Regions from separate parts of the Homo sapiens genome. Here all the other regions are linked to region 2. The links come from fine-mapping of genetic effects on gene expression. A gene starts in region 2. Each other region holds a variant in brackets. All regions are shown on one strand. Distances are between the middles of the regions.

What was found. PIP is the estimated chance that this variant, and not a neighbour inherited with it, causes the effect.
Region 1: its variant is the best candidate, but not a certain one, in a credible set for the expression of PARG in lymphoblastoid cells (GEUVADIS, PIP 0.58).
Region 3: its variant is the best candidate, but not a certain one, in a credible set for the expression of PARG in neutrophils (BLUEPRINT, PIP 0.56).

Annotation. Positions count from the first base shown.
Region 1 is chr10:49,814,697-49,822,880 of GRCh38, forward strand. It overlaps PARG (poly(ADP-ribose) glycohydrolase), which reads right to left. Exons shown (of 18, transcript NM_003631.5): 17 at 5,469-5,597; 18 at 3,583-4,798. The coding sequence ends at 4,644. It also overlaps the pseudogene RPL21P89. Among named protein-coding and RNA genes, the nearest start is that of OGDHL, 56 kb to the left of the region's middle. The variant T/A (reference allele first, on the strand shown) is at 4,844.
Region 2 is chr10:49,938,658-49,946,841 of GRCh38, forward strand. It overlaps PARG (poly(ADP-ribose) glycohydrolase), which reads right to left and starts at 3,370. Exons shown (of 18, transcript NM_003631.5): 1 at 2,852-3,370. The coding sequence starts at 3,068. TIMM23B (translocase of inner mitochondrial membrane 23 homolog B) reads left to right here and starts at 3,396. Exons shown (of 7, transcript NM_001290117.2): 1 at 3,396-3,643; 2 at 6,375-6,433. The coding sequence starts at 3,538. It overlaps TIMM23B-AGAP6 (TIMM23B-AGAP6 readthrough (NMD candidate)), which reads left to right and starts at 3,396. Exons shown (of 17, transcript NR_158661.1): 1 at 3,396-3,643; 2 at 4,578-4,701; 3 at 6,375-6,433. RefSeq lists an enhancer at 3,211-3,280.
Region 3 is chr10:50,039,853-50,048,036 of GRCh38, forward strand. It overlaps the pseudogene FAM21EP. Among named protein-coding and RNA genes, the nearest start is that of WASHC2A, 24 kb to the right of the region's middle. The variant CA/C (reference allele first, on the strand shown) is at 5,009.

The DNA of each region.
Region 1 (8,184 bases), 120 kb before region 2:
CTTATCTGTAGGGTTTTTGAGTATATCTCTTTTCATAGCCTTTCTAGTGGTTGCTCTAGCTACTACATTGTATTATGTATAGCTTTTCATAGTCTACTGGCATCAACATTTTAATTGTTTGTGTGAGCCGAAACCTTACCTCTATGCCCCTTTTCTTTCCCACATTTATAACAATTATTTTCTCTGCATACAGTGAAAACCCCAATAGACATAATTATATTTTGCTTCAAAAAATGTAATTTCGAAACCCACAGAGGTGTATTGTATTTACCCATACTTTTACTGTTTCTACTCTTCCTCCCTGATCTTCCAAGATTCCTTCATTGATGGTTTCCTTTCTGTTTCAAGAACTTCTTTAGCATTTCAGCCAGAACCACAATTTTCTAATAATTCACCAAAATGACAAACACAAAAAGGAGGAGAGGCACCTGATATATGTTCTCTGGACCTTTTATAACATGCAGTTGTTCCTTTGGCCACATACACACGAATCTAACAAGAAAAGTCATACCATAGACATCAGTATGGGAACTGTTTGAAAAGGAATACCCACAAATGTTCCCATGGCAAAACTGGGAGTCCACAATGTTACCCACCATGCTATTGGCATTGTTGTAAACAAATTAAGGGGAATACTCTTGTCAAGAGATTAATGTGCATACTGAGTGTAGTAAGGACTCTAAAGGTTGAGATAGCGTCTTGAGAAGTGTGAAGGAAAATGACCAGAAAAAAAGGAAGCCAAAGAGAAAGGTACCTGGGCTTAACTGAGGCGCCAGCCTGTTCTTCTCAGAGAAGCACACTTTCTGAGAACCAATGGGAAGGAGCCTGAGCTGCCAGAACCTGTTCTCTACTAATTCATGCCATAATAGGTGTGTAACAACAACAACAACAAAAGACCTTTGCACTGTTTAAAAAAAACAAAAACAAAAACAAAAAAAACTTCCTTTAGCCATTTTATCAGGGCAGGTCTGCTGGCAACTAATTCTGTTAGTTTTCCTTTTTTGTGTTTGTCTTGTAGACAATGTGTCATTGCTTTTGGTTGCACTTTCCTGGTCCTTTAGCTACAGAGAATGGGCTCTTCTTGAGCCTCTGTCTACATACAGCCATTCCAGGTTGTTGGGTTCTCCAGTAACTGGTATTAAGTATGGGATATACAAGGCAGTAAGAAAATCCAGGGAACTCACCACTATTTTATTCCTTGATTCCCAAGGTCTCTAGCAATTCTGCCTTCTTTTTTCCAACTTTCAAAGTGTTCTTGTTTGTTTTATATATAATGTTCAGGGTTTTTTAAATGAGTTTAGAAGAAAGAATAGAGAAAAGTATGTTTATTCCATCTTTTGGAATCAGAAGTCCTTTTCCGATTATTTTGATGTGTGTGTGTGATGATCCTGTGGTCATCTTTTTAAGACATACTGATTTACAGATAAAATATAATGTCTGGGATGAACTTTGTAATAATTTGGCATGGGTAAATGGGTAGGAATATAGGTGGAAGTGAGATTAGCCATGAACGGATAAATATTGAAGATAAGTGACAGGTATATTACCCTATTTTATTTTTGTATATGTCCGAAATGCTCCTTTAAAAAAAATTTCCTGACTACCCCACTCTAATATTACAGAATCTTACAATAATCATGATTTATCTGTAGCTATTGTCTATGTTCCCTGGTAGAGTATAAACTCGTTAACAGGGATTCAGTCTATCTTGGTCACAATTATAAGCTCCAAAACTTTAAAGTGACTGGCATATAGTTGTTACTCAAATTACCACGTTTTGTCAAATACAAGATGCCATAGATTGTAAAATGTGTCTTAATTTTATGTACCAATAGGAAAAATTTCTGCAAATTGTGACACATACTACCAGTTTTCTTTTCTTTTCTTTTCTTTTTTTTTTTTTTTTGAGATGGAGTTTTGCTCTTGTCACCCAGGCTGGAATGCACTGGCATGATCTCGGCTCACTGCAAACTCCACCTCCTGGGTTCAAGCGACTCTCCTGCCTCAGCCTCCCAAGTAGCTGGGATTACAGATGCCTGCCACTATGCCCAGCTAATTTTTTATTTTTAGTAGAGATGGGGTTTCACCATGTTAGCCGGGCTAGTCTCGAACTCCTGGCCTCAGGTGATCCACCCACCTTGGCCTCCCAAAGTGCTGGGATTACAGGCGTGAGCCACTGCGCCCGGCCGACATACTACCAATTTTTAGAAGTATTTTGATTTGGGAGATGCTACAATGTGAAAACATGTCTATTGGTATCTGTGGAATAAATAAGCTGAAATAATGTGAGGTTTACATAATGGTGAATATGTGTTCAAGGACAGATCATGTATTAATTGATAACAGCTATATTTTTTAGTCTATTATCAATTCTTCAGTGAATGTTCCTTCCCAAATATTAAAAATTTATGTTCAAGTTTGTAGGACTATTACAAACCTTAATAGAAAATACAAGATTCCACAATGATGGTCTCCACCTTTTACCACCAAGAACCTCCTGTATTAATTTATCCCCAAGGTCTCCATATTTTAAAATACTTTGATAACCAAGTAAAGTTCACTTGTTAAGCTAATTTTGTCTTTTATGGATGAAATTATACTATTTGGATTGAGGTAATATAATTCCAGCTACAATAAAAGAAACTTCACCTTTTGCCCTACTTGTATGGATTCACTACAGGGAAATGTAACATTTCCATTAGAATATAACTTTGTAACCTCTAGTGCTACTTTCCTAGAGTCTAGGCCCCAGTGGAATGGGGATGGCAGTCACTGACTGGCTCTTAGCTCCTACATTAAGTCATCAAAGGGCATTTAGCTGGCCCATCTTACATTTATGTTAGGAGTTAGGCCATTTGTTTACACAGCTCTCCACAAAAGAGTCTTACTTTCTGTGTTTTGGAATACCCAGCTGGGTGACTTCTTACTTGGATTAATGATTTCTCTACCATAAGAACCAACCTACCCTATTCATGAAACATTTTAAAGAACGGGTCACTTAGTCTTGGGCTGCACAGGAGGAGACGAGTGTGGAGCTAGAAAAAGTGAGGACATGAAACAACCATGAATCTGCAACCAAAGCAAAGAATGGGAAAGATTTTAGTATCAACAGAACTAAAGACAGATTCTTCCAAATTTGAGAGATGACTAAAAATCTTAGTTATTGTGGTAAAAAACTTCAGTGACAAGTGGCTGCCTTCAGGTGCCAAATCTCACTATCCTCTCAATCTCTACATAAACAAAAAGTGTGATGGCCACCAGCCAAGGCCCTGTCTTTTTCCTGCCAGTAGCAGGAGGTCAGGCCATCCACTGAAGTGCCTTACGAATAGGATTTGACCGCCACTAGCGTTTCCTGACAGCTGATGGTAAACCAGAACAACAACAGGGTGGTTTAGGATTGTTTTGGAAATCTGAGTAGTAAGTGCTTCTGTGATGAAACTCCACTTTCGGTTAACACAGGATGGGCTTTGGCTTTCACTTTAACCTCTGAAAGACATTATTATTTATGTTTGTCGCCAGATTTAAAAATGCATAATTGTGATAAAGGACGTTAAACAGAACCCAAATAATGCCTAAACCTAATTGTTTCCCACCAGTCCAATTTTATTTAGATTTTATGTGCTCACATATAGACACACTTAAAGAGCATACGTTTATATATACATATATAAAATATAGATGATATGGGAGTTTCTGACAAAGTGATTTATTAATGAAAATTCATTCACTATATAACCTTTGAATACCAGAGAAACTTCAATATGTACAAATCAGCATGAAGTTCCCAGTTCTCAAACTTTGGTTATATGAATATGCCTCAAGCACCACAAAAGAAACATTAGTCCTAATTTAAAAAGAAAAAAGTACCAAGAAACAAAAAAAATCTTCAATTCTCTTGAATCTGTTTTCTTTACACCACATCAGGAAAACCTCCTTTTATTCCACATTTCCTTTCATCTCAGCCAGTCTCCAAAACTGGTATAAAAAAATACTGATCAGAGGAAAAAAGACAGACAAACCATTACAGATAAAAATGATACCTCAAAAGTACAATTTCTGGAAATTATTCTATCTTAAATAAAGAAACTATTTTAACCTAGGAGGTTTGCATTATGCAACACATATGAAAAAAACCCTAATTATTAATTTTCAGAATTTAAAAACTTAAACAATGCAAGCATATTAAGAGTTGAGTGGAAGGCTCACAGGGAGATTTTTAGCAAAATCAGTTAAAGAGATTCCTGGATTTCAACTTGTTTCCTGGCATCGCTGGCATCTGCGGGCTGCAGAAGCAACTGGTATAATATATGGGCAGGAAGAAAGAGACCCGACAGGCTGAGCACAACCTTCCATGGGATTTCACAAGAGATCTGATGGACAAAAGAAATAAACATCAAAGAATGAAAAACTGAAATAGAAGAAAATAGAAACAAAACATATCTAAGTCCACGTGAGTCAGGATGGAGGGAGTTTAGATGTACCAACTGACAACTGCACATGTGTGGAAGAGATTGCGTCCTTGACTACAAATGTGGATTATGTACACATTTATATTAACTTAAGTCAATTCATATATTACACCTGACAGCTCAAACAGGACGTCTCTGGTGGGAGGTGGGAGGAGATGCTATTCGCTCGGCTCCTCAGGTCCCTGTCCTTTGCCCTGAATGGTCAGCGGTCTCTGCACAGGACTCGACAGCATGGTATATGAATGGATAAAGCTTGATGTCTGGTCCAGGGGTGGAACAGTTTCTGCATTCTTCATTGTAGTATCGTAGCAACAGCTTATACACATCTCCTGGAGAGCAAAAGGTCAGACCAGAGGCACATTAAAGTATGTAAT[T/A]GAAAAAACCTTAGAAAGAACACTCCAGTTTTATCTTAATCTAAATGGCATATGCTCAGACTTGGCTTTTGAAAATACAGCATGAATTTCATATGCCTGAAAGGCTTTCCCAACATAAATTAAACAAGATTTTTAACACTCTTTAAAGAAACAACTTCTTTGCTCATGATAACAACAGGCTATCCATGGTACACTGTCCATGCACCCTCGTTATGCACTGTCATGGCAGCCCTCGTTATACACTTTGCTCCTGAGGTAGCAAGCACACTGGATGAGCGCTGGCAGGTCTGAGAAACAGGACAGTGGGGCTTCTCAGATCTGAACTTACCCTCATTCATCTTTCCCATTTTAGATTTTTATAGACAGAAAAGTAAAAATGAACACCAACTTCAGCTTCTTGACCTTACTTTAGTAAGCTGATATACCCTATCAAGACTGTGGATGAAACTCTGCCAGAACAAAAAGACTCTGCAAATGCTGCCCCTCTGAGGGTTTGTCCTTCCTGCTTAGAGCCATGCTTTTGTTTCTTCGTACCCACTGTGATTCATCCAGATTTAGCAAGTGTTCCCACTGAATGGTGTACAATCCATCTAGATACCAAGTGTCAAGAGTATCTCCTACTTACCAACAGTGAGTTTCCTTTCAGTAAGGAAAATGTGCATGCTGTAAATGTCTCTCATCAATTCTGAGTCCCCAAAGGTGAAATAAACCACATCTCGCTCAGCTGCAGCAGCTGCCAATATCTGTATTAAGGCTGAGGCAAAGAGAAAAGACACGGCTATATCATGACATTTTCCACCTAGATACCTTTAGCTCTTTACCAGCTGGTGTGCCACAGCTTCATCCTAGATTAAAGATTTATAAACCCAGTATACATGGTATTAGAAATGGGGAACACAAGGCTGGGCGCGGTGCCTCACACCTGTAATCCCAGCACTCTGGGAGGCTGAGGCAGGCAGATCACCTGAGACCAGGAGTTCGAGACCAGCCTGGCCAACATGGTGAAACCCTACTAAAAATACAAAAAAAAAATTTAGCCGGGTGTGGTGGCAGGTGACTGTAATCCCAGCTACTCGGGAGGCTGAAGCAGGAGAATTGCTTGAACCTGGGAGGTGGAGGTGGCAGGTGAGCCGAGATCGCACCACTGCACTCCAGCCTGGGTGACAGGGCAAGACTCCATCTCAAAAAAAAAAAAAAAGAAATGGGGAATACAGGATGGACATAAATCATCTAGTTGTGTGGCTTTTCAGACATGCTGCCAAGAATATCATCAAACTATAGAATTCCAACACAGGCACCTTTGCTGAACCACAAATAAAGGAAGCTGCAAACCATGGGACTAAGGTAGTATTTATATTCGCTTCTATTAATCTGGAACTAAAATTTTTTGTGTTTGCTTACTTGATATAATTGCTGTGTCTTATCACACAGCCACTGGCCTTTTGTATAGGCACATTTGGGAGGTTCTAATGTTCTCCTTAATCCCACAGCAGGAGTTCTCAAAATGGGCTGGGGAGCACACCTGCGTCCCTCCTGCACTCCCACCTCCACTGGCCACTGCAGAACTCCCGTTCTGCAGAGTTCCTGAAAACACTGGACAGTCACTCTCTGGTGTGTTATAAGAATGAAAAAACAATCGAGATCTACTATCTCCAGGAATCAAAGTTACAAATCACTGAGCCTGAAGTATGTTTCCGAAAATTTAGTTACCTTACAATCTCAATAGATAGGATTTTAAATAACCACAAAATTGAATACAGTTACAATAAATGCCCTTTCGCTAGTTATAAATCTCTTACTTCATAAAAGGGAAGATGGGAATCAAATTAAAACATTAAAGAGGATATATATATTTTTTGAGATGGAGTCTTGCTCTGTCACCCAGGCTGGAATGTAGTGGTGTGATCTCAGCTCACTGCAACCTCTGCCTCCCGGGTTCAAGCGATTCTCCTGCCTCAGCCTCCCAAGTAGCTGGGATTACAGGAGCCTGCCACCATACCTGGCTAATTTCTGTATTTTTAGTAAAGACACGGTTTCACCATGTTGGCCAGGCTGGTCTCGAACTCCTGACCTCAAGTGATCTGCCCGTCTCGGCCTCCCAAAGTGTGGGGATTACAGGCATGCGCCAATGTGCCTGGCCAAAGAGGGTATCTTTTTACAGTTTTGATTTTTGACAGCATGTTAATATTCTACATATTTACAAATTAAAATTAAAATACTAAGAATGGGAATGGGAAGAAACCTACAATTGAAGGTAAACTAAAATAAATGAGCGTAATTTTAGTCCAAATAAATAACATAACCACATTGAAGGGAAAGGAAGAAGAACAGGAAGAAAGAAAGAACCCAAGTAACTTACAAAGACAATATATGACTTATATAAGTCCATAAGACCATAATATATGGTCTTAGGCCAGAAAGAGAGAACTGCAAACAAATTCCCAACTCTTTTTACAAGGTTTGCTTACCATAGTAGTAGAGGTGAAGCAACTCTGAAACTATTTTGAATTGTATTAGAGGAATGAGCAAATGAATAAATGTGTTGATGCTGCTGGGAACAGGTGTCTCACTATGGAAGGAGGGACACACAAAAATGGAATGGAGGAAGACAAAAAAGAACTGTGTGAGGATGGACTGAAATGGAAGGCATTGGTGTATACTCATGATGTCGAAAATATGTGTATCTGTGTGTGTGTGTGTGTGTATGTGTGTGTATGCACATATATATTTCCTAGCTCTGTCTGCTAAAAGGGCCAAAAGGGAGACACCACAGTAGCAATGAGCACACTCAGCACCCAAATCTTGGTCTCTACCATCATTCCCCCTAAATGGAACTAGATTTCTCAAGAAGTGCTTAATGCTATAGTTTGGACAAGAAAGGTACAAGATGACCTCAAAATATTTTGTTATACCAGAAGGTAAAGTAGTGCTCAAATGGATAAAACAAAACGAAACAAAAAACAGACGGGCCAGCTCTTCCCCACAGGAGAAAGCCAAAGACTAACTGGTAAGTGTGGTTGGGGTGTTAGAATAGGAACATCCTTTCTTTGCAACCACTGTGGTAAAGGTCAGGCAAGAATCATTAACAGATGCCAAATCTAGGGAAAATTTTGCCTTTGTTTTCCTACAGATTGCTTATTAGTTACAAGAGAGGAAAAAAATCCTCAACTCTGCAGTGGGGAAACTGGGCAACAGCCTGACACAGTGATCAAAATTAAGATCACCAGTAGTGTCAGATGGCCATCAAGTGCCTCTTGACAGTGTCACTGATGCAGCATTCTGACAGAGAATGCATAACCTCAACCTCATCACAAGGAAACAGCAGACAAACTCAAAGAACG
Region 2 (8,184 bases):
AACTCCCGGGCTCAAGTGATCCTCTTGCCTTAGCCTCCCAAGTAGCTGGGACTACAGGTGCATGCCCAGCAAAATTAGCGATTTCAGTCAATACAAGAAATATATCCAGGAAGATAAAGAATATAAAATTTAAAGATACTGAATAAATATCCATTTCGCTACCCCGCCTACTTGTCCTAAGATAATTATATATAAAAATTTAAATACCAAGTTCCTAAAGGAATCCCAAAAATTCAAACAATGGGCTTTTGATACAAATATAGTCTTCGAACATTCTGTTAATTGGTGTCCTGTGCCAGGTATACAGAAAACATTTAAACATGCGAAATACAGCCCCAAGTATTCATTTGGTACCTCTTCTGCAGAAATCTTAATTAAGATCCAACCAGTGAGGACTGACTGCCCTCACCCCTATTTGCAACTAACTCCTCCTCCTTTACATGCAAATAAGGTTAATGAAACCACAAATTATCCAGTCACAGAAGCTGAAGTACACCTGAACGTATACCTGAAGTTCACCTTCAGTTCTCTCTCCCCTATACCAAGTTCTCTGAAATCTACATCCTAAATTTTAAATCCATCCCTTCCTCATACCCTTTAAACACATCGCTTACTAGACAACTGCCATTTGTTTCTTGCAACTAGTCTCCCTGTCTACAGCCTTGACTATCCAGTGTTCTACAAACTACAAATGACCAGTCATTTTTCAATGAAATAACACAGACAATATAAGAATGCATCACACATAGTAAGGTTAAGTATTATTTCATGAAACATTTATTTCAGTTATAAATATGGCTTATTTGCCAGGTTACATATATTTCTTACTCTGTGTACTGGATAAAATTTATGCTGTGGGTTGCAGTTAGAAAAGTCCAAAAGCCACTTTTCTAAAATATTAACCAAATGGTATTCCCACGCTTAAAAGCTTTTTAGTGGTTTCTCCATTAACCACAGAATAAGGTTGAAATTCCTTAAAATGGAATTTGAGTTTCTTCATAAGCTCCTGTCTGCCACCCAGCCTCATCAGACACTCCTCTGTCATCTTATGCTCCAGTCTTACCAACTTTTGCATGTCTTATTTCCTCTGCATGTATAATTCTTTCTCCTCTTGATTTATACAGCAAATCTTCCTCATCCTTCAAGGCCTAGTGCAAGTCTACTTGGTACTGCCCCTAAGTATGAAGACATCTAAGTGTAGACTCTTCACCAGAGAACTGCCCGAGCTCTGCCCAGCCTCTTACACTGTTAACGAATGCATCCTTTTTGAAATGATCTCCTTTGTCTGACACAACACAAGCCAGGCTTTCCTCCCACCTCTACAGCCGCTTCTCTTCAGTCTACTCTTAAACTTTGGTGTTCCTAAGGCATCTGCCCTAGGTCACCTTTACTTTCTCTACATGTTTATGTTATCTATGCCCATAGCATCCATTATAATGTTTATGCCACGAACTCCCCAATCTACTTCTCCAGCACAGAAATATTTCTTCTCAAGTATCCCATTCTTTCATGAATCCATCCCCTTCCCTATTGCCAGCATCCAGGCCTAAGCTACAATTATTTCCAACCTAGATTAACTCCTTAACTGAGTCTTGATGCTCCACTTGAGTTCCTTTTCAATCCATTCTTTATTTTCCACACACCAGCCACACAGACTTTTCAACAAATAAATAAGTCTAATCAAGTCACTCCCCTACTAAAAACCCTTGAGTAGCTTATCAATGCCCTTAGAGTTCAAAATCCTTAGCAATGTCTACATATCCAATTTGATCTGACTTTTCTGTACCACCCTGCAGCCTCATCTCTCACACTCTCTTGCGTTCACTCTATATATCAATTGCACTCCTGTTTTTGTTTTGTTTTGTTTTGTTTTGTTTGAGGCGGAGTTTCGCTCTTGTTGCCCAGGCTGGAGTGCAATGGTGCCCTCTCGGCTCACTGCAACCTCCGCCTCCCGGATGCCAGCGATTCTCCTGCCTCACCTGCCTCAGCCTCCCGAGTAGCTGGGATTACAGTTGCCCGCCACCACGCTAGGCTAATTTTTTGTATTTTTAGCAGAGACGGGGTTTCACCATATTGGTAAGGCTGGTCTTGAGCTCCTGACCTCAGGTGATCCACCCGCCCCAGCCTCCCAAAGCTCAGGGATTACAGGCAAAACCACCGCGCCCGGCCTCGGTTGCACTCCTGAAACACTTCTTACTTCCTCTTCATCTAACTCCTACTCATTCTACAGTCCTCAGAATAAGCATCTCATCTTCTGGAGGACTATTTTCGATTCCATAAATTCAGTTAGGTAAAACAATCTGTCATTCATCTATCAGAACATCCATTACCTTTTATTATATTAACTTTTGCTATCGTCTATCTCTCCAGATAGATTTTAAGGTATGAAGGCAGAGGCCAAGTTTCTCTCGTTCAACACTGTATACCAGGGACGGGTACAATGCCAGCTTAAACTAATAGCTCTGCACCCTGGGACCCAGAATCTGAACAAGTGAAGTTGTTTTCTTCCTATCTAGAGGCTGAAGCGCCCTACTGTTTTACATACACAATTAGATCTCCTTGACGACTAAGGCAATTTCTCAATCAAACCTGAAGAAGCAAACAGGTGGTGGAGTCTCCTGCCATTTTCCGCCCTGTGAGTGACTGCTCATCAGAGTTTCTCACATCAATCGCACTGGGAAAAATGCGGCCCCATTCACCCACTAGTGGCTTTGGTAGCTCAGCAAGTGGACCTCAAGAGTGACGATGCACACAAGACCAGAAAGGAGTGACTGGAGCCCCTGGGTCCTCAGACTGAGACCAGAAGGTTCGGGCCGAGGCGAAGGACAAAGATTTTTATTTTCCCACGTACCAAGCGAGGTGGCGCTGCCTCTGTGCTGTCCCGCCCGCCCTGGGACGCAGGCTGGCGAGGACGGTGGGACCCTGAACTGCACGTGAGCGTCCTTGGGGTCGAGGACGCGCCTCTGCCTGCTGGGAAAGCTCCGGGCGTCCGAAGCAGCCGGCGAAGTTGTAGCGGCGCCCCAGCGGGGTCGCTTGGTGCAGGGTTCACAGCCGGGGCCCGCATTCATGCTGGGACCAGCAGCGCACTGTCCCCGGGCCGGCCCGGGCGGAGAGCCTCATTCACTAACCCTGAGAGAGATGGACTGCGCCTCCTTCTCAGCGCCTGCCTGCACCATTCCCTCTCTGCCGCTGCCTGCTTCTGCAATTGCTGATCCGCCGGCCTCCCAAGTCAGGCCGTAAACACTCGCCTGCCTTCCCTCTTCCACTGGCACCCCACCTGCCTCAATGCGCCGCTTTGATTCGGGATTCGTTCACTTTCCCACCACCGGAAAGCTGCCGTCAGGCGCTTCCGGCTTCCGGGGCGCACACTGCCGCAAAGCGGAAGTGTGGCGCTTAACGGGAACCGGCGCCCGGAATGTCAGCGTGTGAAGTAGGCGCTGGCAACGCGGGGTTACCCGCTGTTATTGAGGAGTAACGGCCCAGCGGACCACCCAGGCTTGAGGCAGCGGCGGGAACCACTCGGTTTGCTGCGATACCATGGAAGGAGGCGGGGGAAGCGGCGACAAAACCACAGGGGTATTGGCCGGCTTTTTCGGAGCCGGCGAAGCAGGTTACTCGCACGCGGATTTGGCTGGCGTCCCGCGTAAGTATGGGGCCTAGCTTGCGATTATTTCTGACTGGTTCTTGCGTTTACACTAAAGTTGCGCGTCCCATGTTTTATGTTGTTGGTTTTTTTTTCCTTGCTGGCGTTTACAAGCTTAAGTACCAGTGGTGGGGTTAGTGTATCTGCATGGCTGCTCTTTCAAGATAGAAAGGCCTAAAAAAGGGCCACGGATCTCCTGGGGAAGCTGTCCGTGATTGACCTGGACTCGCGAGATGATGCATGTTTTCTTAGGTTTATATCCAAGCCTCGTACGTTTTGTGTGTGGTGGGCCGTGTGATTGACCCTTAAGAGTAGAGCCCAGCTTTGGGAGTAAATGTATTCCAAATAGCAAGCCCGTAGTTAACTTTTTAGTACACAGTGACATATTCTGAGCCTCCAAGTAGCCGTAAGGGCAGAATATTCAGTAATATTGCATGTAAGTGAGAAATAAATATGACTTGGGACAGGCTAGGAAACCTTCTTTAGGAGCTAGGAAGTAAGCTGAACTTTAAAGGTGATATATAGACATGAAGAAAGAAGCCAGGTAAGAATTATAGGAAAGGAAATAGGCAACATCAAGGTATACAGAGGCATAAATATCTTGCCTTTGCCTCTCCTCGGTCTTGTGAATATGTTTTCCAGAACTTTGGTACTTTGTAACTGTGGTTGTTCAACTAGATAAATAGAACTTGGACCTAAAGATAGGCAGTTGGTCGTGGATAAAGCCTTTACGAAAGTACTTTCTTTTTAGAGAATCCTTGTAATATTTCTCTAGGTATTTTATACTAAGGAACAACAACAACGAAATATGTTCAGACTGACTCTAGTGCAAAAAAATATAAAAGACCTTTCATTTCCCTGGTGTCACCTTTGTCAAAAAACTGAATCTACAACACATGGTGTTTTGTTTCGTTTTTTTTTTGTTTGTTTTTAGAGTCAGGACCTCGTTCTGTCACCCATGTTGGGGTGCGGTGGCATGATTATAGTTCACTGAAGCCTGGCACTCCTGAGCTCAAACAATCCTCCCCTCTAAGCCTCCTAAGTAGCTGGGAATCTAGGTACGTACCACCACACCTGGCTAATTTTTAAAATTTTTTTTTTGACTTATTGTGGAGATGGGGTCTCCCTGTGTTGTCCAAGCTGGTCTCAAACTCTCGAACTCAGGCCATCCTCCTGTCTCGGCCTCCCAAAATGCTGGGATTCCTAGGCCTGAGCTACTACTTTACCTGTTTAGAACACAGTTTCATATTAATCTTAGTATTTCTGAGTTTCAGAGCACAAAGGGCATATACACTTCCTTAATGTGACAATATTGTTAAATTAATTTGATTAAGATTTGAAGGTAAATTGGGGGACCAGGGAATGAACACCATTTACTGAGCTTTTACAGTGTGCTAGCTACTTTTCTGGGGGCAGGACTATAGTGGTTTTTGTGGGTTTTTTTTTTTTTTTTTTTTTTTGAAAAGAGGACCCTTGCGCTCACAGAGCTTACATAATACTGAGGTAAACCAACAAACATAAATTAAAACATTGCCTTTAGTGATAAGTGCTGTAAAGGGAATAAAGCAGAGTCATGAGATTGTGATGGAAGCAGGATGCCATTTTAGAGCGGATTAGGGAAAACATCTCAAGGGAGTTGACATTTGAGCTGTGACCCAAATACAGTACAAATGCTTGGGAGGCAAGTATCCAGGAAAATAGCTAGTGCAAATGTCCTGAAACAAAACAAATTTGGCATGTTTAAGGAACAGCTCTTAGGCCAGTCTGTCTTCGTAGTTACAAGGGAGTTGGATCAATTGAAGCTTGTGAAATCAGAGAGGTAGGGAATGACAGCTAATGTAGGATTTTGTAAGTTATGGTAAGGAGTTTCGATTTTCTTAAGAAAAATCACGTAGTTGCTATGTAGACAGTGAATTGAAGGGGTAAGAGAAAGCAAGGAGTTAGGAAATTGTTGCTGTGAGATATGATGGTTGGACTAGGATGGTAGCAATAGAGAAGATAAGTAACACAATTCAAAATGGGTATTAAAAATAGAACAAGCAGGACTCCTAATTGATGAAAAGATAGAGGCATGGGTGATGCATAGGTTTGTAAATAACTGCTGAGATACAGAAGGATCCAAAGATGATAGGTTTTACTGTTTTCAATGTTAGTGAATTCAGGTCTGGCCCTCTCAAAGTTTGTGTTTTCTTTTGCACAGACCCACATACCTGTGGTAATGACCCAAGGATTCTCAACCTTGCCACAGTAAATCAATCGTTAATAGTAATATGTGAAGGAACTGCCTTGAAATAGTTAGATACAACATGTACACAGTCAGAAAACCCAACCCAACCACTGTTTTTCCCATGGAATTGATTAGTCTTTTCTCAGTCTTATTTTGTAATTTATATAGTCACCAAGCATTCTTGTAGTAAAGTGAAAGAAATTAGCTTTGTAAATGGCCTGGACTACACTTCCTGTAAGTTCAAAAATCAGATCTATGACACTGCGATTATCTTATTGGTGTAAAAGCCTGAGCCACCAGTGGAAGACCTGGTTTGGGATTGAGGGTCTCAGGATGAGTCAGCCCCCAAACTGACAGATAGGGAGGATAAAATGGGAAAAAATTTTCTGCCTTCAGTGAGCCTATAAAAATTGCAAACACATGTAACAATCAGGAGCTGGATTAACTCTAACTGGATTAACTTAAAGAATTTTGTTGCAATGTGACATTTTGTTTTCTCTCTAGTAACTGGTATGAACCCTCTGTGTCCTTATTTAAATGTGGATCCACGATACCTCGTGCAGGTAAGACTAAGATTTTACTAGTTTGGTGCATTATTTTACCATTTTTAAAAAAACGCCAAGTGCTATGCTGACTTGAACTATGACATACACTTCTGGAGGCAGTAAGTCTCTGGTCTCCATTCACCCTTTTTTCCTCACAAACACCAGGAGCTTGGCCTGCATCTCTCTGAAACCAGTTAACTCCCTTCAAAAGCTTATTTTTTAAAACCAGAGCAGAATTAATTTTTGAAAGCACCCCAATAAAAGTATTGGGATGCCTAGTTACAAAGTGTGTGGGGTTTTTTTGTTTGTTTGTTTGTTTGTTTTTGAGCCAGAGTTTTGCTTTTGTCCTCCAGGCTGGAGTGCAGTAGCGCGATCTCTGCTCACTGCAACCTCAGCCTCCCAAATTCAGGCCATCGTCCTGCCTCAGCCTCCCGAGTAGCTGGGACTACAGGCGCCCATCACCACGCCTGGCTAATTTTTGTGTTCTCAATAGAGACCGGGTTTCACCATGTTGGCCAGGCTCCCAAAGTGCTGGGATTACAGGCAAAGTGTGTTTTAAAGCTCAGTTTACAATATCAGGGTTTTTTTGACTAAGCATCAAAAGTTTCAAAGAGTATCTTTTTGAATCCAAGATATATTAGCAAATATATCTTGGGTATATTAGAAAAGCAAGGTTGTTTTAACATCTGAAAATTAATGTATTGTGCCATATCAATTTATAATAAAGCAATCAAGGAAAGAATATAGTACAAAGACCACATGCTTATCTCAATAGATTCACAAAAATCATTTGACAACATCCAACACCCCCTTTAATGATTATAAAAACAAACTAGGCTGGGCGCAGTGATTCACACCTGTAATCCCAGCACTCTGGGAAGCTGAGGTGGGCAGATCACTTGAGGCCAGGAGTTTGAGACCAGCCTGGCCAACATAGCGAAACGCTGTTTCTACTAAAAATACAAAAATTAGCCAGGCGTGGTGGTGCCTACCTGTAATCCCAGCTGCTTGAGAGGCTGAGGCACGAGAATCGCTTGAACCCTGGATACAAAGGTTGCAGTGAGCTGAGAACACCCCACTACACTCCAGCCTGGGCAACAGAGTAAGACCCTGTCTCTAAATAAATAAATAAAACTAGACATAAAAGGGACTTCAGCCTGTTAAATGCCATCTACAGAATATCCAAAGCTAACATAATTTAATGGTGAAAGACTGAATGCCTTCTCCCTAAGATCAGGAACAAAATAAGTATATTTACTCTCATTTATATTCAGCATTGTCTGGCCAGGGCAATTAGTCAAGTACATTAAATGGCATTCAAGTTGAAAAAGAAGTTAAACTATCTGTTTACAAATGACATGATCTTATCTATAGAAAATCACAAGGGAAATCACAAAAATCTGTTAAAACTAATGATCGAGTTCAGCAAGTTGCAGAATACAAGTTCAATATACATAAATATATTTCTAGACAGTTGCAATGAACACTACAAAAATGAAATTACAAAAAACAGTTGATTACCAATAACATCAAAAAGCAAATACTTAGAAATAAATGGACCAGGTGCAAAACATATTCTGAAAACTATAAAACATTATTGAAATTAAGTGGAAAGACACATGCTATGATCCTGAAAATTTTAATATTAAAATGGCAGTGCTCACCAAATTAACCAACAGATTTAGTGCAGTGCCTGTCAAAATCCCAGCTGGCTTTTTTGCAGAAATTGACAAGCTTTTATCCTAAAATTCATATGGAAATTCAGGGGA
Region 3 (8,184 bases), 100 kb after region 2:
TCATTAGCTCTCAACTGAGCAATTTTCATGGCCTAGTTTTGATCCTCGATTCTTGCCTTTCACTCTTTCAACCCATCTGTCCATGAAGCCAGTTTTAATTTCAATTTTGAAAAAATGTTTATGAAAACTAGATTAGGGTATCATATTTTTACATTATTCAGCAATGATGTTTAAGCAAGCAGAGAAGTCACACAAAGTTCTAAAATAATTTTATGTTTGACTTTAGAATGCATTGCAATGAAACCTCAACAATGAAGGAACTAAATGAGGGAAATGAACTAAGTTAGTCTAAACATGAAAAGGTTCCTTTTTGAATAGATTTCATTTTTTGAGCAGCAGAACTGAGCAGAAATTACAGAGTTCCTATATGACCCTCACTCCCACAGCCTTCTCCTATCACAACCTGCACCAGAGTGGTACATTTATTACAACTGATGAACCCCACAGTGACACATCATTTTCACACATAAATAGAAGTTTGTAATTTACATTAGGGTTCACTCTTGACGGATTTGAACTAATGCATAATGACGTGTATTCACCATTACAGTACCACACAGAATACATACACTGTGCTACAAATCCTCTGTGCTTTGCCTATTCATTCCTCTCTCCCCTCAGATCCTGGCAAACACTACACTTTTTACCATCTCCATACTTTTACCTTTTCCAGACATAATTCGGGATTTTATAGTATACGGCCTTTTCAGATTGGCTTCTTTCACTTAGTAACACACACTTAAGATTCTTCCATGTCTTTTCATGGGTTGATATAGCTCATTTCTTTTTGGTGCTGAATAACAGTCCATTGTCTGGGTATAGTACAGAGTTTATTAATACATTCATCTACTGAAGGACATCTTGGTTGCTTCCAAGTTTTGGCAATTGTGAAAAAAGCTTCCATACACATCTGTATGCAGGTTTTTGTGTGAACATGTTTTCTACTCACTTGGGCAAATTCCAAGGAGCATAATTGCTGGATCATACAGTAAGAATATGTAAGAAGTTGCCAAACAATCCTCCAAAGTACCATTTTGTATTCCCACTGGCAGTGAATGAGAGTTCCTGTTGCTCCCCATCTTCCCCAGCTTTGGTGTTGTCAGTGTTTTGGATTTCAGCCATTGTAACAGTCATGTAATAGTACGTCACTGCTGTTTTAATTTGTATTTCCCTAATGACACATAATGTGGAGCACAGTTATCTTTTGAAAATGTAGAACTGATCATGTTATTTCTTGCCTCAAGGTCCTATAATGACTTCTCCCTGTCTATAGAATATAATTCAGACTCCTTAGAAATGCTCCCAAGATTATGCATCTCACATTCCGGCCCCATTTTACTCATCTACAACCTCACCTCATCTTGCAACATCTCTGGTACTTCTATCCTCTAATCATCTGCATCTGCAGCTTCAGAACACATCAGCTTCTATATTGTTGCTCCTGCTCTGCTCTACTTACTATCTTGTGCACACATGGTTACCTGACAAGCACCTAATCACCTTTCAACATTCAGCTCCAATATCAACTATTCCACAAAGCTTTTATACCTACCCCCTTTACACTACTACCTACATCATATATTGCACCCATAACAATTTCTTTATTTTATTATTTCTTTATTTATTGAGACGGAGTCTCTCTCTGTCACCCAGGCTGGAGTGCAGTGGCATGATCTTGACTCACTGCAAGCTCCGCCTCCCAGGTTCATGCCATTCTCCTGCCTCAGCCTCCCGAGTAGCTGGGATTACAGGCGCCTGCCACCACGCGTGGCTAATTTTTTATATTTTTAGTAGAGATGGGGTTTCACCATGTTAACCAGAATAGTATCAAATTCCTGACCTCGTGATCTGCCCACCTTGGCCTCCCAAAGTGCTGGGATTACAGGCATGAGCCACTGTGTCCAGCCCCTAACAATTTCATTTTTAACTAAACTGAAGGGAGCACATCTGATCTCTACCACCTAGCACAGTCTTTTGCACATATTGGTACTCATTAAAGCTTTGTTCAAGGAAAGAATAGATATTTTAGTCTTTCAATTGATCCTCAGAACAAACCTGTGCTATAGGTAAGGTATTCTCCAAGTTTTAGACATTAATAAATATTTGGTTATCCTCTGTGTTAGCCTGTTCATATTGCTATAAAGGAATACCTGAGACTGGGCAATTTATAAAGAAAAGAGTTTTATTTTGGCTCACAGTTCCGTAGAGTGTACAAGGAGTATAATGCTGGTATCTGCTTCTGGTGAGGGCCTCAGGAAGTTTACAATCATGGCAAGAGGAAAGGAGCCAGCATGTTACATGGTGAGAGAACAAGAGAGAGAGAAGAAAGAGGTGCCAGGTTGTGTTTATTTGTTTGTTTAAGACAGAGTCTTGCTCTGTCACCCAGGCTGGAGTGCAGTGGCGCGATCTCAGCTCACTGCAACATCTGCCTCCTGGGTTCAAGCGATTCTCCTGCCTCAGCCTCCTGAGTAGCTGGGACTACAGATACGTGCCACCACACCTGGCTAATTTTTGTATTTTTAGTAGAGATAGGGTTTCAAGATGTTGGCCAGGATGGTCTCCATCTCCTGAAATTGTGATCTGCCAGCCTCAGCCTCCCAAAGTGCTGAGATTACAGGCATGAGCCACCATGCCTAGCCCCCAGGTTCTTTTAATCCAGATCTCATGTGAAATCAGAGTGAGAACTCATTCATTACCACAAGGGCAGCACCAAGACATTCATGAGGATCCACCCCCATGACCCAAACACCTCCCACTAGGCCCACTTCCGATACTGGCGGTCAGATTTCAACATGAGATTTGGAGGGGACAAAACATCCAAGCCATATCATGCTCCAAAAGTTTGTTTAGAGGGATGTTGGCTTCTCACAGGAATCCCATTCTGATTCACTCCAAATGAAGTCCATCAATGTTTATCCAACTCATAACATACATGCACATACAGGAATCTGCTATGAGTTTTTATAATATTAATAGGAAAGATAATTAATTTGGGAATCTGAATTGCATTGTTCAAACTTCTAGTGATCCTAAAGGGAGGGCATTACAGAAAGGAAAGTTGTTTCTTGTAGCATAGCTCTTTTGAGTGTTGTTGCACCACATTTCAAAATGATGGGTATTAGAGTAATACAAGGTACCAGGCTAATAATACTGCTGGTGATAGTGGTAAAGGGTCATTGCTCTTAAATAAAAGCTAAATTTAAAAGCTGCATTGCTTATATATGACTTTGTATGGAGCTCTCTAAACTTAACCCCCTTTCTTTCACTCATTCAAACAACTGCTTTTATAATTTTGGATAACATGAATTCTTAAAAACATACTTATGCTATATCAAATAAGACTGTCCTATAGGGTCACCAGTGTGTGTATCCCCGAAGCCAACAGTACTCCTACCTACATAGTTGCGGCTCTAGCAACAGAAGTCAGGTGTCAGGACTGCAAAATGCACATGACAGAAATAAAGACATGAGTGACTATGACTGCCAAAGGAATCTGGATTGTTTCCTTCACCACAGTGTTCTTCCATAGTGAGACCCTGAAAATAATAGGCTGGGGGAGGGTAGAAGATAACAAACAGATTTGCAAGTCCTTCACCTATAATGAGAATGGATAATTCAATTATATGCCAGAAGAAAAAGCACAACCCCGTTCAGTATTAATTGTGCTGGAACTTCCACCATAAGTCTGGGTCCAGTCAATGGGGTAATTTCCAATATCCTAAAAGAACTAAGATTGATAACCAAAAGGAAAATGTTTCCCTCTAGAAGATAGTTATGCTTCTCCTCAGGAGTAGAAATCACTGTAGCAGAGGACAAAATGAGGCCATGAAATCTGGTTAAGCCAGACTGGATGCCTAGAGGGTAGCTGAGGAACAAATGGAAGCTGCAGCAGGACAAAGACCCAGCCAGTACTAAAAGCTGGGTCCATGAACAGCTTCTTGAAATGGTGTGTGGTCGTGCTTAGCTGAGCATGCTGTGGGACTCATGATGTTGGAAAATGAGGGGGCAATGAAGACTTAAAGATGGGATGGAAAAACAGCTAAAAAAAACAAAACAGAAGGGGAACAAGAAACAAAACAGAAAAAAAGCTGGCCACGGTAGCTCATGCCTGTAATCCCAGCAATTCAGGAGGCCAAGGTGGGAGAATCACTTGAGGTAAGAAGGTTGAGACCAGCCTGGGCAACATAGCAAGATCCTTGTCTCTACAAAATTAAAAAAAAAATTAGCTGGGCATGATGGCACACATCTGTAGTCCCAGCCATTCAGGAGGCTAAGGTGGGAGGATCACTGGAGTCCTGGAGCTCAAAGGTGCAGCAAGGTATGATTATGCCACCGCACCCCAGCCTGGGCAACACAACCAGACCTTGTCTCAGAAAAAAAACAAAAAAAAATGGGGGCAGGTAGAGAAAAAAGTATTTCCAGAATTTTTTACAATTAAAACATATATCTAGCTATTAAAAGTAATGACAGCAAAAAGATTTCCAAATCAATTCCCAAAGCATTTCTCTCATCTCTTCTGAAAACGTCTGAAAAGACAACTATAAAGATGAAATAGAAGTTAAAGCTAAACAAGGCAATAGCGCTAAATATGTAATTTCAGTAACTCAGAATTTGCTCCATCCTCTGCTCTAAAAAAGCTTAGCTACAGAAGAGCAGTTACCTTTGAAACTTTTTCCCCAACATAAAGATATCCAGAATGTGAAGCTGCCATTAAAAATATTGCCATAGGCTGGGCGCAGTGTCTCATGCCTGTAAACCCAGCACTTTGGGAGGCTGAGGCATGTGGATCACAAGGTCAGGAGATTGAGACCATCCTGGCTAACACGGTGAAACCCCATCTCTACTAAAAACACAAAAAAATGAGCCAGGCACGGTGACAGGCACCTGTAGTCACAGCTATTTGGGAGGCTGAGGCAGGAGAATGGAGTGAACCCAGCAGGCGGAGCTTGCAGTGAACAGAGATCACGCCACTGCACTCCAGCCTGGGGGACAGAGCGAGACTCTGTCT[CA/C]AAAAAAAAAAAAAAAAAAAAAAGTCCAATGGCAATTTAGATTATAAAACATGGGAAGTAAAATAAAACTTATATTTGTTAAACTAAGTTGTATTTAAACTAAGTATTAAACTTAGTGCATCAGTCTTGAAGAAAGCTCATGCCTAAGACTTTCCTTTGAACTCAAATCTAGACAGCTGGGCTCTCTGACCTCACAGAGCTTCCCATGATTTCTTCCTCCAACATCTGCCATGATATCTCTTCCTACTGTGGTTCTGCACTATATTACGACAAGCGACTTGTTTATTTCAAGGGATCAACATTAATTACAGAGGCTATAAGGAAGCCGAATGTAAAAATACCAAGAACTCAAAAACTTCCAACTCCAGAGAAGAATGACATTTTAATTCTAAAAATCCTAAAGCAGATTGAAAAAAAAAGTGTAAAAACTCATGCAACACACATGTGAACAAGACACAATGAAAAACTGCTAGTAATCCTTTTACCACAAGTCTGAATGTGGCCTTTAGAAAGCATTTAGGGAAATTCTACTCGACTGTGCTCACACCCCTTCAAATCAAAGAACTCCCAAGCACTTGCATAAGTGCTGTATCTCTGGAGTCTAGAGTCTTACAAATCAAAGTGGAGTCCACAAGCCAGCAGCAGATTATGCAGAATTTCAGGCCCCGCCCCTATTTTCTGAGTCAGAACCTGCATTTCACAGGGTGCCCAGGTGATTTCCTAAACATGAAGGTTTGAGAAGTGCTCCTCAATGTTTAGCAGTGACTAAATGCTGAAATCCACTAGAGAGCATCACAAAACTCCAATGACGAGGCTGTACCCCAACCAGATTAATTCAGAATCTCTGGAGCTGGGATCCACTGTCAGCACTCATTAGGTCTTTTCTTTTTATTTTTTTTCCTTTTTTGAGACAGAGTCTCGCTCTGTGGCCCTGGCTGCAGTGCAGTGGCACGATCTTGGCTCACTGCAACCTCTGCCTCCCAGGTTCCAGTGATTCTCCTGCTTCAGCCTCCTGAGTAGCTGGGATTACAGGCAGGCACCACCACGCCCAGATAATTTCTATATTTTTTAGTAGAGACGGAGTTTCGCCATGTTGGCCAGCCTGGTCTCAAACTCCTAATCTCAGGTGATCTGCCCACCTCTGCCTCCCAGACTGCTGGGATTACAGGCGTGAGCCACTGTGCCTGGCCTGTCAGCACTCTTTTAAGTTCCCCATGGATCCCAGTGAGCAGCCGAAGTTGACAGCCTTTGTTCTAGGACAAGCTTGTCCAACCCGTGGCCCATGGGCCACACACAGCCCAGTATGGCTTTGAATGCGGCCCACCACAAATCTGTAAACTTTCTTAAAACATTATGGGATTTATGCATGAACCTTTTTTTTTTTTTTTTTTTAGTTCATCAGCTATTGTTAGTATTAGTGCATTTTATGTGTGACCCAAGACAATTCTTCTTCTTCCAGTGTGGGCCAGGGAAGCCAAAAGACTGGACGCCCCTGTTCTAGAACCTTGGCTATCTTTCCTCTGCATATCTTTTTGCTCCAAGCTTTAGGTAATGTTTTTATTTTCCCTGAACCACTATAATACTCTAGTAGGAGCAACTACACTGATGTCTGGCTGTTGCTACAGGGGGAACAATCACTGACAATGTTTAAAAGAAAAAAACTGGATAATCCATCATAAATTCATATGTTCGAGTAGAAAACACAAATTATATATGCTTGGGAATTCCTTGATGTGGAAATGTGAGCACAGCTGGGTGGGAATTCCTTAAATGCTTTCTAAAGGCCAGAGTCAGACTTTTGTAGTAAAAGGATTGCTAGCAGTTTTTCGTTGTGTCTTGTTCACATGTGTGTTGCATAAGCTTTTCTCTCTTTTTTTTTTTTTGAGACGGAGTTTCGCTCGTTGCCCAGGCTGGAGTGCAATGGCGCGATCTCGGCTCACAACAACCTCCGTCTCCTGGGTTCAAGTTATTCTCCTGCCTCAGCCTCCTGAGTAGTTGGGATTACAGGCATGCGCCACCACAAGCTGCTAATTTTTTTGTATTTTTAATAGAGACAAGGTTTCTCCATGTCAGGCTGGTTCCGAACTCCCAACCTCAAGTGATCTGCCTGCCTCAGACTCTCAAAGTGCTGGGATTACAGACGTGAGCCTCCACGCCCAGCCGCATAAGCTTTTAATACATTTTTTTTGCAATCTGCTTCGGAATTTTTAAATTGCTTTCAGTAAGAACATGAACATATCTATGACTTATATATCCACTTCACCCGCTCCTAACTTGCCTACAATGTTAAAAAAAAGAGGAATTATTATAACACAGGAAGATGTTTAACACTGAGGATTTTTTATGTCATCATATTTAAAGTCTTTTTCTGCACAGCTAAATCTGATTCCCTGCTACTAAATCTGATTGAGTTAGCAACTAAACTAACTGATTTGGTAGTATCTATCCAGATCACAAACAGAAATATTGTTAAGACTCCCTCAAAAAGGAGTTTAACCTCAATATGTAACTCCTCCTAACTATAGTTCTAAATTAATGAAACACAGTAGTCATTTAACAAGATACTAGTATATATGGCCATTGGGGTATACGGGACATGCTACCTCAAAATATGACACCTTGGCATTTGAGAAAACAGAAGCAGAAAGATGTCTCTGACCTCTCCCTGGCCCTTCTCCTCTGAAGGAGGACATAGAAGAATCCTCTAACCCTCTCTGGAGTAGGTCATAAGACCTTCATTCCAGTCCTCCCTATTCCCAGAGGAAAGGAGCCTCCTTATTTGTAAAGATGCAGAGAATGATCTGACCACACAGGCCTTGCTGAGCTCCCCCCAGCTTATTCCCATCAGGTCACACCCCTTTCATCTAATCGTGCTCCCCAAAACTGTCCGCTTCTTCATCAGACAGCATCAAATTGACACAGGATTTCCTGTTTCTCTTGAGTTTTTCTTTCTGAAGGCTCCTGTGTCTGGTAAAACTTATCTTACGTAAACTTGCACACTTTTCTCTGGTTAATCTGTCATTTGTTCTAAGGGACTCAACCATGAACCTAGCGATGGCTGAGAAATCATTTCCCCCCTAGCTGGCCTAACTCATTTGAAGGAGCATACACTATCGTGTGGGAGTCATACTTATTCCTAACCATTTTGAAGAGATTCATCTTTAAATTAATATAT